Linked DNA regions of Homo sapiens: region 2 is reported to be linked to region 1. The links are microRNA targets in miRTarBase. Many come from high-throughput screens and were not tested one by one. Region 1 holds a microRNA gene; the other region holds the end of a gene's coding sequence.
The links. The annotated mature microRNA hsa-miR-92b-3p reads UAUUGCACUCGUCCCGGCCUCC and lies in region 1 at 1,674-1,695, shown strand. An mRNA with a match to its seed (bases 2 to 7 or 8) in the 3' UTR can be bound and repressed. Matches are read on the target gene's strand: a 7mer-m8 pairs with bases 2 to 8, a 7mer-A1 pairs with bases 2 to 7 and ends in A, and an 8mer does both.

Region 2: miRTarBase lists SYNJ1 as a target of hsa-miR-92b-3p. The part of its 3' UTR that is shown has no 7-base or 8-base seed match.

The regions. Positions count from the first base shown.
Region 1 is chr1:155,193,564-155,196,563 of GRCh38, forward strand. It overlaps MIR92B (microRNA 92b), which reads left to right and starts at 1,614; the gene lies at 1,614-1,709. THBS3 (thrombospondin 3) reads right to left here. Exons shown (of 23, transcript NM_007112.5): 22 at 2,424-2,563; 23 at 2,025-2,336. The coding sequence ends at 2,278. THBS3-AS1 (THBS3 antisense RNA 1) reads left to right here and starts at 1,434. Exons shown (of 6, transcript NR_183238.1): 1 at 1,434-1,809. RefSeq lists a silencer at 1,117-1,446 and an enhancer at 2,603-3,000.
Region 2 is chr21:32,632,105-32,635,104 of GRCh38, reverse strand. It overlaps SYNJ1 (synaptojanin 1), which reads left to right. Exons shown (of 33, transcript NM_203446.3): 32 at 221-244. The coding sequence ends at 241. Among named protein-coding and RNA genes, the nearest start is that of CFAP298-TCP10L, 21 kb to the right of the region's middle.

The DNA of each region.
Region 1 (3,000 bases):
ACTTAAGGGAGTAAACCTGGGCTCCGATGAACCCTAGGGTCCTTCCTTGCCACTCTCCACCACTGGCCAGGAGCTCCTCCCGCCCTCTAGTGGTCACCGGGAGCCTTGCGGGGCTGGGCCGCGCAAGCTGAGGGGCCGCTCGGACCGGGCGGAGAGGAGTAAGGGCAGCGCTGCCTAAGTGAGGCAGCGAGAGCCCGCGAGAGGGAAGCAGGGCCCGGGAGAGAAGGGTCACTGCCGTGGCCAGGGAGGGAGGAACGCACAGCATGGTGGACGGCTGGGAGCTTTAGGAGGGGGCACTCCGGGACGCGTGGTGGTGGCGTCTGGAGGAAATGGAGCTAAGCGGGTGGGGTCCTGAGGTATGTGGAAGGGGCACCGAGGTATGTGGGAGAGGACGTTGGAACGTGGGCGGGGGAGTTGGACACGTTCTGTGTGGGCCGTTATGTACTTAAGAGGCAGATCGGGCGTGGCACGGTGGCTCACGCCCGTAATCCCAACACTTTGGAAGGCCGAGGCGAGTGGATCACAAGGTCAGGGGTTCAAGACCAGCCTGGCCAAGATGGTGAAACCTCGTCTCTACTAAAAACTACAAAAATTAGCCGAGCGTGGTGGCGGGCGCTGTAACCCCAGCTACTCAGGAGGCTGAGGCAGGAGAATCGCTTGAACCCGGGAGGCGGAGGTTGCAGTGAGCCGAGATCGCGCCATTGCACTCCAGCCTGGGCGACAGAGCAAGACTCCGTCTCAAAACAAAAAAGGGGGGGGCAGAGAGTAGGTGGGGTGACAGAATGGGATTTACGGACACAGAACTATCCTTTGGGGAGCAGAGTGGTATTGGGGACAGGTAGGCACGTAGCGGGGGGCAAAAGCACACGTGAGGTGCGTAATGCGCGACAGCCAAGAGGTGTGTGCGGCAGCAGTGCACGAGGGGAGGAAGCTATCCCAGGCCGCGGCAGCACGTGGAACTTGGGTCCCGCAGTCGCAGGCTGCGCTCTAGGCCGACGGAAGCAGTTCCGCCTGTATTCAGAAAACAGTTCTCAGCCCCAAAGACACAGGTTGGAAAGAACACTTTAAAAACACTTCGGCGAGGCACGGGATTGGAGCGCATCAGATCAGCAGGCGAGAGACCACAGCTCTCGCCCGCGCGCCGCGCGGCGCCCGAGGCGCAGCTTTGTGTGCGGCGAGACCCTGGGGCAGGCGCTGGGCGGGGTGGGGACATCTGACGTCAGCGCGCCCGGGAGCGCGGGCCGGGGAGGCGGGGAGCCCCCCAACTCGCAGGCCGGAGAAAACACGAGTAGCTAGGTGGGCGGCCCCAAACCTCAACTCCCGGCATTGCCAAGCAACAGCCATTCAGTTCGGTTGCTGGGACACGCGTCACCATGGCGACGGCTCCGCGCCGCGCAGTCTGAGTACTTAAAGAGCAAGCGCGCGCAACGCCCGGGCGTCGGAAAGCGGCCTTCTGGGACTCCGCAAACTCCCGTTCTCCCTCCCCCCTCCCCCTTGCCATTCCCTTTGCCTTCCGGGCGCCAAGTCTCTCTGGCCTCCAAGGTGAACCCAACTCCCCAGCGCGCCCCGGGTTCCCGGGTCGGGCCGGCTTCAGGCGGTGGGGAGCGGGATCCCGGGCCCCGGGCGGGCGGGAGGGACGGGACGCGGTGCAGTGTTGTTTTTTCCCCCGCCAATATTGCACTCGTCCCGGCCTCCGGCCCCCCCGGCCCCCCGGCCTCCCCGCTACCCCTAGCGGGGCAGCCCCCGCCCTCCTGGCTCTCCATCCCGGCGGATCTTTGATAGACTGGAGTGTCGCCGCTGCCACCGTGAGTAAGTGGGTCTGGGAGGACTTCGGGCATCCTCCCTCAGGCACCCTATCCTTCACTTAACTCCATCCAGCACCTCCCCCACCCGCATCCCCAAATCAGCCAAACTTCCCCTAGATCCCTAACTTCCACCCTCCCAGGCTTTCTCTTCTACTCGCCGATTCCTTCCACTTCCCCACCCTATCCCGGAAAATCCCTAAAATAAGCAGTTGCACTGGCTTAGAAAACAACCAAAACTTTATGGCAATGTGCTGTCATCTTTCCTGGGGTTAGTGCCTGAGTAATACCCCTTGAAAACTTCTCATCCCCTGAAGGGTGGGGTGACCACCCCTCTGGGACTGAACTCCTTTTGGGAGCCAGAGAAGGGTCTGTGGTTGGCTGAGGGGCTGTAGCTTAGACCTCAGGGTCTCCAGGATGGACCCCAAGGCCAAAGGGTCTAAAATTCTGAATTCTGAATCTGGTGGCCTCCTCCTCACACCCTTCCCTGGAGCAGCTGCCTCCGGAATGGCTCAAAGTCCTCAGGCACTGTGTCTGAAGAAGGGGAAATAAGTAAGGTCAGAGGATGTGGCTCTCCCACAAGGCATGAAGGATTAGGTTGATCTCAATCAGCCACCTCACCATTGCATCGATACTGGAGATTGGACCAAATTATGTTTTCTTGGGAGAAGCAGAATACACCAAGACGCCCCCCTCGCATGGATGTGTCAATGATCACCCCAGAATCCGCCACAAGCTGGGGTCCCTCATAGAGCTTCACCCTGTCCAGGATTCCAGGATAGGAGTATCCATTGGTGCTAGGGTGCCAGTGGGCACTGTGCCACCATGCCTGGGGCCTTGCTTTTCCCCAGCCCCCCTTGAGCTCACCAGGCCTGAGAGAGAAGGGAGGGAGGGAAAGGGAGGCAGGAAGGAGAGGGAAGGGGGGTGCTTTTCTCAGGCCTGGGGCCCCTAGCTCTTTGTCCAGCTCCTTTTGCATCTCAAAGCACCAGCCGCATTCCAAGCGAGGATTGGGTTGCCATGACAATAAGCACAATGGGCTGGGGGGTGAAGTCACCCGCTTCCCAGGCTCTAGTCCACCCCCTTTTATCCCCTGTCCTGGCACCCCACAGCCCCAGGCACCTTAAAGGGGAACCAACCCAGGTTCCTGGACTCTGGGCTCTTGGCCATGGAAAGTCCAGCCTCTAAGCAGACCCATTTC
Region 2 (3,000 bases), not on the chromosome of region 1:
TCAACCTCAGACAAAACTAAAGTCTGGACCCTAATTCAACAAAATTATAAAAGGAATTGGAATTGTCTTTTGAATTTATGTTACAACCTGCAAATATTGCTGCTCTTGGGTTCTGTCTGTAACTTAGAAAGCATTTTGTTGACTGAATTGTTAGGGTTGCTGGTTGATCTCGGATTGTCCTCCTAACTCTTTCCTTTGATGTCTGTTTCCTTTCTCAAAGCAGGAGCAACCATCAGGGTAACAGGTATCTGACAATTTATCAATCTTACATGTGTTTTCATCCGTCTCAACACATTAGATGTATGAATCTCTGCTTCATACATCTAAAGTTTCACCCATTTTTAAAACCACCTGTCTCCATTAATAAATTCTATCATACCATAAAACCTGCTTTTTCTTTTTCTTAGTATTTTGGATTTTAGGAACCATGTAGTTGTTCTTGCTAATGCTTTACCACTTTTTGCTTCATTTTTTTATGAAAATTAACAAAACTAAAAAGTGTAACTTCAAGAAAGTAAGATTTAGGTATATGAAGGCCTTTTTGGCAAAACCAGATCGGTTCTTGGTTTTAACAATGGCATTTATGTAATTACATAAACACAAAATTCAGTATGTTTTTTAGGAAAAAATATTTGGGGGAAATATTTTTTCAAATGGTTTTAGTAGCAAGATTGTTATTGGTAAGGAAGAATTGATGGTTTAGAAAGATGAAAGTTACCAGTATAACAAGATTATCTAAAGGTCCTTCCAACACCTTTCTCTGTAAAAATAGCACCAATTTTAATATTGTCATCACAAATCCTGCTTAGATTACAAATTAATTCTAATGTGATGAATGGTGATGTGGTTGTCATTGTAATTTCAAGTCTGGGAAAAATGATCCTGATTCTATCAAATTAACTTATTTTGAAATAAAAATTTTCTTATATATGCAAATAAAGGTGTTTAAATGTATAGCACTGATGCAGCAGGTGACTTCTGTTCTAAGCTGGCAGAGCACAAAATTCTCCTTTCCTATAATGTCTGTGTTGCAGACGATTCTATCTGCCATAGGAGAATTTTGTCTCAGACAGAAGTATTTCATTTTGTATTAACTATAAATAGTCCAGAGATTTTTGGTAATATAGAGTTAATTTTATAATATCTATATAAATTTCCTTTTAAGTACATTTCCACATATAGGTCTACTTACCTAAGACATTTAGAGTACAGTTTAAAGTCTGTGACATGTTTTCTCTTTAGTTTTGTACAAATTTATCACACTAAGTTTGAAGAAAAATATACTGTTTCAACCAATTATAAAGCATATTCTAGGATAGTTGAATAAAACAGATACTTGAAAGTTATTCACTTAAGTCATCCATTTCCTTTTACAAGTGAACATCCTTCCATATTCTTAAGCAGTAACTAAGTGTTTCATAGTATGCAGTTACATTTTATTGAGACTGCTGCTGTTTTTTTCCAATATATTTCATGAAAGTATAGTTATGTTGCTTTAACAACTATCCAAATTCCTTTTGGGCAGTGCTCATTTTATTACATTGCCAGTCTTGAACTGAATTTTTTTTTGCCCTATCGTATCCAACCCTGAAGTTTTCTTAAGTTAGCATAAGTGTCCAAGTCATCTACCCTAGTTTTAAGAATTATATACATTTTTTTCAAAATTAATAATGTATGCCTGATAAGCTAATTTGCTTATGAGGCAAGAATCATAGTTCTTTTCCTTCATCCGATCATTTGTCTTTGCTCAGTCCCTTGGCTGTGCTCCACTCCAACCACCTTCTTTATGGAGTAGGGACCAAGGGATTTAGGGCAGGAGTGAAGGAATTCCAAGCACTCTTCCTACTGATAACAGTTCACAGCCAACTCTGTCACATAGAAGGGACCAGGCACCACTCTAGGCACATCATTGTGGTTGTAGACTTCATAAACCAAATAGAAAATGGAACTTTTTTTCCTCTGGTTTTAAGCAATGGTTGCATTTGGTTACTAATAGTGTATCTGTTTTGGAATATTTTTACAAGACAGGAGGGTCAATTTTTTTATGGAAAGTTGTCACATTACTCAGTTTTTGTTTTTTGTTTTTTGAGGCGGAGTTTTGCTCTTGCCCAAGCTGGAGTGCGGTGGTGCGATCTCAGCTCACTGCAACCTCTGCCTCCCAGGTTCAAGCAATTCTCCTTCCTCAGCCTCCTGAGTAGCTGGGATTATAGGCGCGCACCACCATGCCCAGCTAATTTTTTGTATTTTTAGTAGAGACAGGTTTCATTATGTTGGCCAGGCTGGTCTGGAACTCCTGACCTCAGGTGATCCACCTGCCTCAGCCTTACAAAGTGCAGGGATTATAGGCTTGAGCCACCGCGCCCAGCCTCACATTACTCAGTTTATTCAACAAAGGAGAGCTTACATTAAAAGTCAGCTGTGCCGGGCATGGTGGCTCACGCCTGTAATCCTGACACTTTGGGAGGCTAAGGTGGGCAGATTGCCTGCACTCAGGAGTTTGTGACCAGCCTGGGCAACATAGTGAAACCCCATCTGTACTAAAATACAAAAAATTAGCTAGACCTGGTGGCACACGCCTGTAGTCCCAGCTACTCAAGAGGCTGAGGCACAAGAATCACTTGAACCCGGGAGGTGGAGGTTGCAGTGAGCCAAAATCGTGCCATTGCACTCCAGCCTGGGTGACAGCACAAGACTTGGTCTCCAAAAAAAAAAAAAAGAGGGGGTGGGCAAAGAACTCTCAAAATTTATTTTTCCAAGTAGAAGACAGAAAGATGGAGTCTTCGTCTTAGGAATAAAATATGCTAATAGAATTAATTTTATCTATAAAATTGAATTTCCATAGTAACATTAATTTTAGAAAACACACTTAAAAGAACAATGAAACCACATCATCATCATAGATGGGTGTTAGAATTTTATTTATATAGATTTAGCATAAGTTATAAGTATGGATTTCTTAAGTTCATGCTGAAATGTGATAGAACTGGGCATGAACAAATT